3 separate regions of the Homo sapiens genome follow, and regions 1 and 2 are each linked to region 3. Evidence: fine-mapped expression QTL. A gene starts in region 3. Each other region holds a variant in brackets. All regions are shown on one strand. Distances are from middle to middle.

Region 1 (2,765 bases), 320 kb before region 3:
TGAACCTGTGACAAATCCTTTTCTTATGCTTCTTCCATCCCTGCTTCCATGTTATATCCTTTCCCCTTCTAAAATGGTAATAATGAGAAATAACTATTACTAATTACCCTAGAACATAAATTTCATTTAAGGTGTCACAATCAGATTATCATCTTCAGTTTTTCAGAGCCGCAAACTTCCCATGGTTATATGCAGGTAGTACTAAATGGATGGATCTGGGATCAAACTCAGGGCTTTCTGACTTTAAAAGTCTTGTTCTGCTACCCTCCAAGTGGCCTAGGGTGATTTGCCCTAAACGGTTCACCTCTGTATGATGATGCATCCATGCAGTGGGGCTTATGGAAAGTGAATGTGGAGCCTCAGGGCCTTAATCTTGAAGCAGGCTCTCTAGAAGGGAGCTTGCAGAAGGAGTGGGGACTCGATGAGATGCTGTTTTCTCATTGTGTTTCAGTGATGACTGAAAATTTGTTGCCAGCGTCTATCTGGAAACAATGTTTTGATGATCCACCACCCCATCCCTCCAAACCACTTTCTTGCACATACTCCAGAATAATAGACAGAAGAATTTAATACATGTGATGCTTTGCCTTCCATTTACACTATCATAAATTACAAAGTATTGTTCACTTCACAAAATAAAACCATTTCCAGATAATTTTTTGACAGTATCAAGAAGTACATAAACTACAACAAACAAATCTGTACAGTTGGGAGGAGGGATAATAGCAGGGAAGAGGTCAAACCTCCCTGTGCCAATGGAGTCCATCTGCATAGCCCTTGGGACTGTCCAGGTCAACAGTCACACAATGATGCTCCACGTAAAATAGTCATTCTCTTCTGCTCACTCCAAAGCAAGACTGGTGAGTTTACACAAATCATCTCAATCAAAGGAAAAGACATTGCAGTTGGATTTTTTAAAAATCTAGATTTACAGTTTTTGATGTTTTAAATATTTCACCTATGTTACAAAATATAGAAATCTTGGTGTGAAAGGCTCATGCTAAGATAAATATAACCAAGTGACTGGAACTGTAGTAATAAAATCATATTATCCACACAGAGCTACTTTTGTCAAGGAGGAACAAATATTTGGTAAAAACCAACCTTATTCTCACTTTAAAAAATAGGTTTGTAAAACAAGAATGAAAAACGTTGACAGTTATTCTGCAGATTCGCTTTTCACCAATACAGAAATGTGGCAAAAATACAATTTGATATTAACAGATGAATTCAGAGGGCTTGGCCAGGAAGAAAAGAGGGTAAGTGCTAACTTTTTACACAGACCAGATACATCCAGTGTTCTCAAATAATTTCAGGTAAAATGACCGCATTCTGTATCTTCTGGGATACACACTCATGATACGAAAAGACTATGACCAATTCCAAAGCATACTTTGGGAATTCACAAAATTTGTATGCATAGAAAGTGTGTGGACATTTCAGACCATCCTACAATTGCT[A/G]TAAATACATACCATACAATAGAAGAATGCCAATGCTTAAGAGCAAAAACTATCCAAAGCAGGAACACAAGGGGCAGGTGAAATTTCATTAAAAAGCACTGAGGAGGACAGAGGTATGTCAAGATAATACTGCATTTGTGGTCAGCTTTTTCAGGGTGTCACAGCAAAATGAGGGACAAGGTACACAGGGTAATAACCAATGCACTGCATTGAGTTCTATTTGCTAAAAATAACAACATTCTCGTGGGTAAAATAAAAATACATTTTACGATACACGTTTCATTTAACAGAATTGTCTTCTTTTTGTAAGTGGAAAATGTATAACTGTATCAAGTACCTGTATGAATTAAGTTCCCTTTTATTACCAATAAGACTGAAGTTTAAAGGTCTACATTGTTTTTTAATAAATTAAAGATGTATTAATCACTCTTCCAGCAAACCAGACATACATAGGAGGCACAGCAAAAGACCCAAGGTGAGGGGCTTCCCTCACCTTCACCCTTGTTCTCACGTGGAGGTGGCGCATGTCTATGAGACACAGTACCCCACTCAGCGATCCTCTGCAGTCCAGGAAATTCTAGCACTTGCTTGGAAAACAAATCAAGTGGTAAGAAATGTTTTTATTCCTTTAGCTGTGTCAACTTGGATGGTGCTGGGGCCATTCAGCTCATTTCCCTGATGGATTAGAATAAAACGTCTTCGTTTTCTATTAAAATCTGCACAATCAGCTTTTGGTACCGCATATCATGCAGGGTGGTCAGGGTGCTGTCCTCAGGGGGCCTCATCAGAGTGGGCCCAAACACGATCCCCAGATTTTCTGCATTCATGAAATTGTCTTTTTCATTCATAGTAACCCTGCAAAACAAACATATAGAACAGAGACATTATGGAGACTTGAGGATTGATTTTATGTATTGATTATGTATGTAAGTCCCGATAACATCTCTGGTTCAGGAAATTGCAAGAAAAAGATTGGGAATCAGAACAGCAGAAAGGTATTTTTGGAAGGGTAATTTACTGATTTTTCGTTTTAAATTGTTGACATTGCCTTCGCCGGTGGAAATGAATTACTTATGTGAATCTGGCAGGAACACAATTTTTAAAATTAGAAAATTAGTCCTCCTTATTAAGTAAATGTGGAACTATCATTTGAGGAATACTGGTTTGTAGGGGCAGCAGATTCTGAGGCTGGCCCATGGTCCTTTCATAGGCCTTATACAGAAGGCGTTTTTTTTTTCCCTCTTGTGGCTTCCTGCTGGTCTGTATGCTGGAGAGTGGGAAGGGAAGGGCAGGATCCCTCTCTGC
Region 2 (2,765 bases), 56 kb before region 3:
GGCACCACTGCACTCCGGCCTGGGCAACAGAGCAAGACTGTCTAAAAAAAAAAAAAAAAAAAAAATCCTGTATAATCTTATGTGGTAGGTTTTATTATGCCCAATTTGCATAATGAGATCACAAGATCACATTCTAAGGTTCTGGATGGACATAAATTTGGGGGGACATTATTCAACTTGCCACAGTGGCAAAATTTTTACCTAAACCTCAGTTTCTCTCCTAGCCCAGAGCCTTTCTATTGCTGTTTGTGGGTTAATGAGAATGAATTTGGTCTATTTAAGTATATATAGCATGTGTAAGATTTTTGAGATGGATATAAAATTTAAAGCACCTTCAAAAACCACTGTCACCCTTATTTTACATGTTTGAATCTCTAAAATAAGTGCCATGCATCAAGCCCTATCTTCAATTACATATAATTAGGTTCTATTTTTGTGATGAATACCTTACTAGTTCCAAATCTGGCTTCGTTTTCACAGTTGAAAGTAAACACTCACAGTTTTCATGTACTGACATATTTCTCTTCATTTCAATCTCAGAACACTATGTTGAGGAAAGAGTGAAATCTCTGTTTATCAAATATTACTAATATGTCTGAATTATCTTATTCTCTCTGAAATTCTGTGTAAGTGTTAGTTACACGAAGTTACCTTGAAAACACTGCCTCGCATTTATTCAGTACTCACCATGTTCGGTGCTTGATATATATCTCATCCCTATAACAACACTAAAAAGTAATCTTATTAGAAGGCAGGTATTTTATTTATTTTATTTTATGTTATTTTATTTTATTTTTTTCAGACAGAATCTTGCTCTGTTGCCCAGGCTGAAATGCAGCGGCATGATCACGGCTCACTGCAGTCTTGACCTCCCAGGCTCAAGAGATCCTCCCACCTCAGCCTCCTAAGTAGGTGGGACAACAGGCACATGTCACCACACCCAGCTAACTTTTGTATTTTCTTGTAGAGACAGGATTTTGCAGTGTTGCCCAGGCTGATCTCGAACTGCTGGGCTCAAGCGATCCGCCAGCCTTGGCCCCTCAAAGGGCTGGAATTGCAGGCCTGAGCCACATGCCTGGTCTGGTATTTTATTTTAAATCATAATCCCTTGCAAAACATCCTGCATGGTAGATATATAACAAATGTTTACTGATTAACTTTAGTATTTCTATTCAATTTTGCCATCCTTGCCCATAATTAATAAGTGATCAAAATATTACTAAATTGTAAAGAAGTTCAGGCAAGCTGGGTGCAGTGGCTCATGCCTGTAATCCCACCACTTTGGGAGGCTGAGGCGGGTGGATCACCTGAAGTCAGGAGTTCGAGACCAGCCTGGCTAACACGGTGAAAGCTCGTCTCTAGTAAAAATACAAAATTAGCCTGGCATGGTGGCGGGTGCCTGTAATCCCAGCTGCTTGAGAGGCTGAGGCAGGAGAATCGCTTGAACCCTGGAAGCAGAGGTTGCAGTGAGCCAAGACTGTGCCACTGTACTCCAGCCTGGGTGACAGAGGAAGACTCTGCCTCAAAAAAAAAAAAAAAAAGAAGAAGTTCAGGTAAAAAAAGGGAAGAGTCTTCTTACTAGGTGTGGTGCTCCATGTACATTATTACACA[T/A]CAACAAGTAGGAAGCAACTTAAGGTTTAACCGGAAATCAGAGTTCCTAGTCTAAAATAGTCTAATTATTTGTAAAGTACTTTTGTATTATTTAAGGAGTCATGTTATAATTCATGAAAGTCTCATGTCTTCTGTACCTTCCTACATCAGACACCTCTGTTGCTGTTGCCTGATTCTGTGAGACATGCACTCCTTACATGGGTGAAGCATAACTAGGTTAATCTCCTATCTGTAACATTTCAGGATAAAAGGAATTTTAACTCTGTTATAGAATTATCAAAGAAGAACCCTTTGGTCATTTAAGGATTAGAAAGAAAGCACTTCTGATCCAATGAATCTCCTATCTAATTTTGGTAATGGCTATATAATTTCATTTTTGCAATGCAGATAAAAGGATATTTTTAAATGGGAATATATTGATAAAGGTGGTGCTGTAAAAGCTACAAATGGCTAATTCCTGCTCTCTTTCTTTCATCCCAGGGAGTGCCATGACATTATGCCTGTTAATAGAAATCTGAGCTAACTGATGTCTCTGGTAGTGAACAGAAGCAAATATAACAGACAACATAGTTGCAGATGAACAATAAAATCACATGTTGTGCTAAATATGGTTAAGTCGGTAAGGTCTTGGCAATGCAGATATATTCAGAAGCCTTAGACTCTCTTCACCAGGCAAGAGAGTAGAAGAAAAGGTAATTCTTACATATGGTTTTACAACTAAAATTGCCACTTGTTTAAATTCACATTTTTAAATTTTTAAAGAATGGAATTGGTTATTGGTATTCATGTCGCTACCATTCCTGAAAAGTCTTTCCTATTTTTTCCTTATAGATGTAAACTATCACAAAAGTAAATGTAATATCTGTCTTTTTTGACAATTTATTCCATAATATCTTTCACATTGGAGCGGCTATTAAGCTTAAGTTGCTTTCCTGGAAGCTGCAAGATACACGTGGATGAATACATTCTCTACACTCAAATAACCTGTAATCCAGCAGGAAAAAGACAAATGGCTTAGAGCAGAAAGGCCGCAGGACAACCTAGCGGGTTGTGACGGTTAGGTGTCAACTTGCCTGGTTAAAGAACACTTAGAAAAGAAACCTAGTAAAGCATTATTTTGGGAGTGTCTGTGAAGGTGTTTCTAGAGGACGTTG
Region 3 (2,765 bases):
TAATGCATCATTCTGATTAGAAACCTGTCATACTCAGAAACCAGTGGGTCTGCCTCTATTGATTCCTACTCCTTCAGATTCATTAGCAATTTTTTTCTCTTCAATTAGACCCGATGATCAACCATAGAAAAGCTGAAAGAAGCCTTCCCTTTGCTCAACCATTCTTAAAAGGAAAAAAAATGCATGCCTTGCTAGTGAAATTACAGCCACTATTATCAGAAAATCTCTAAGGAGTCTCTCTCTCTCTCTCTCTCACACACACACACACACACACTCTCTCTCTCTCTCTCTCTCTCTCTCTCTCTCTCGTAAATGTGCCAAGAGTCAGAGGATGGGCTCGACCTCTCTTCCCCTAACCCACTTCAATCAGGATCAGAAAGATACATCCCTTCATTGCTGCTGTCTAAAACCCATGCCCAAGCGAGTGTCTCCATAGAGCTAATTTCTGAAACAAACAAAGAAAATCAAGTCTGCGAGGAGCGAGGGTTTGCTCCCCTCTGCTCCGGATTTGGGTGTCCAGGGTAGCGGGCGCGGCACGGCAAACAGGTCGGGGCGCTCTGCTTCACCCCAACCTTCTCCGCCCCGCCAGCCCCCGCTCCAGCTGCGCCAGAAAGTGCGAGCCTGCCCGCTCCTTTCGCTTTTCGCTCGCTGCACTCCAAGCCCCGGAACACCCGCGTCCGCACACTAAGGGCACCACCGCTCTCCCACCTCTGCGCTGTCAGATGTCAGGCGCGGAGGTGCTCTGGGCACCGAGGTGCTGGCGAACCAAACAAGTATCACCCCGGACGCCTGCCCCCATTCCGAGAGAGCGGGCGGGATGGCCACAGGTAGGCTCTGTCCATCCCAGGCTGCGGGGCGAGGGCAGTGGGGCGAGACCCGGCGCGGCAGCAGCGCCCGACGGGCTGAAACTCACCGGAGGACACCGACGAGCCGGACAGGCTGGAGTTGCTGGACGCTGCCATCTCCGCGCGCCCCTCGCGTCGCTGCTCGCTCAGCCCCGGTGCGGACGCCGCCGCCGCTGCCCTCGCCCGGCCGCTCGCAGCCTCCGCGGCCCCCAGCCCATGGCAAAGTCCTGGGGACGCGCAGAAAGCACCAGCCTCCGGACTCTGCCTGCACTTCCTGCTCCACCAGATGACGCGCTGCCGCCGCCGCTATTTATTTGTGGTTTCCGTCCCGCTCCGCGCCTTTGCACGCTTTTCTATGGGTGTCAGGGGGTAGGTGGGAGCAGAGGGAGGCCGAGGGGCAGCCGGGACGGGCGGATCTCGGCTCCCGCCGAGCCCCTCTGCCGTCCACGCTCCCCTGTGCGCGGCTGGGACCAGGGCGTCCTGGCAGCTCCGAGCCGCCCCGCCAGCTCCCGCACCCTCTCCTGGGCTCCCGCCTCTCCCGCCGCACTTCGAGTAGACCGGGCAGAGGCGGCGGGAGACGGACAGACAGAGCGACCTCCCCCTTCTCCCTCCGCCCCAACTCCGCTCGCGCACACACAAAGGAAGAAGAGGAGACGCGGTCGCTCGGGGGGTGGTTCGGCTGCTGCGGGCTTGACAGCTCCCGCCACTGGGGCTGGAGGGGGAGGCTGCGGACTGCTGGACAGGGGGAGGCGGGACGGGGGACCGGGTCCCCGGGGTGCTGGGGAGGCCGGGGCCGGGCGCGGGGCGAGCGCGGCTGCTGCGCGCAGCGCTGCTCCTAGGATTTGAAGGGGATGGGGAGGGAGGGTGTGGGGGAAGGTGGTGGGGCTCACCGCGCCCCGCCGGGCTCTCGAGCAGCGAGACAGTGGGGGTGGGGGATCCAGAGGGCGAAGGCGGGATCACTAGGGCCACGGTGCTAGGCAGAAGGGAACCTGGGATGACAGAGCCACTATGGAGCGCTCCTTCCACTCCTCTCCAAATTGTCCTTTGTTGCTCTGGAGCTGACGGTCCCTGCCCTGCAAGAAGGTGCGTTTCCTAAAACACCCGGGAAGCCAACCCAGCTACACTTAAGTAACCCAGCCACGGACAGTGCCCGACGCGTCCGTGGGCCTCTGAGGTTGGCCTTCAAAGAAATAGAGCCGTCCAAACGTGTCATCAGGCCCACACAAAGCTGGTGTCAAAGAGAAAGAGGTTCTCCGTGCCTTGCAAAAAAAGATTCTCACAAAAGACTTAAGACTTGGCAGCAGGTCCGACTGTGCCCTTTCAGGATAGGAACTGCTCAGGTGTGTGAGAGAAAGAGACTCGAGCACAAGGTGTGTCCCTTCCCCCTGTATTTAAACCTAAATTAATTTCACTGGGAGGAAATACCATGCAGATTTTTTTTAAGTCTGTTTCACGCTCCCAGCGGGCTAATCGGTTCTTTCAATCCTAAAGCAACAGAAAACTGTGAAATTTGAAGAGAAATTGTTAGATCAAAGGAAAAAGCAAACATTAAAGGAATGAAAGTACTCTCATTATATAGCAAAAATGGAAAGTGTTCACATTGGGGTAGTTCAACTTTTTAAAACATGGTTAAAAGAACATAGTCAATTTAAAAATTATCAGGAGTGACACAGAACAGCAGCTAGGCCCTGGGGATCCACATCAACCAAGGACCTAACATACAGTGAATAATGAATGTTAAATAATCACAGTACGCACCCACGTCACATTTTCTAGTTGATTAGAACTTAAAAAAAAAAATCCCTCCAGGATACTATCCCAGTGTGTCTTCTCATTAAGGTCCATTTTTTAAAAATACACCTTGCTAAACTGTTAAAGGAGTGTGAGCACTCTTCAGTCACGTGGGACTGCGTCTTCCTA

Evidence for each region. PIP is the estimated chance that this variant, and not a neighbour inherited with it, causes the effect.
Region 1: its variant is the best candidate, but not a certain one, in a credible set for the expression of CHN2 in whole blood (TOPMed, PIP 0.55).
Region 2: its variant is the best candidate, but not a certain one, in a credible set for the expression of CHN2 in whole blood (TOPMed, PIP 0.69).

The regions. Positions count from the first base shown.
Region 1 is chr7:29,512,114-29,514,878 of GRCh38, reverse strand. It overlaps CHN2 (chimerin 2), which reads right to left. Exons shown (of 13, transcript NM_004067.4): 13 at 551-2,315. The coding sequence ends at 2,144. PRR15-DT (PRR15 divergent transcript) reads left to right here. Exons shown (of 2, transcript NR_183550.1): 2 at 1-2,765. Among named protein-coding and RNA genes, the nearest start is that of PRR15-DT, 50 kb to the left of the region's middle. The variant A/G (reference allele first, on the strand shown) is at 1,461.
Region 2 is chr7:29,249,488-29,252,252 of GRCh38, reverse strand. All of the region lies in intron 1 of CHN2 (chimerin 2), which reads right to left. Among named protein-coding and RNA genes, the nearest start is that of CHN2-AS1, 42 kb to the right of the region's middle. The variant T/A (reference allele first, on the strand shown) is at 1,612.
Region 3 is chr7:29,193,139-29,195,903 of GRCh38, reverse strand. CHN2 (chimerin 2) reads right to left here and starts at 1,129. Exons shown (of 13, transcript NM_004067.4): 1 at 914-1,129. The coding sequence starts at 962. It also overlaps a transcript of CPVL not described here. RefSeq lists an enhancer at 1-476.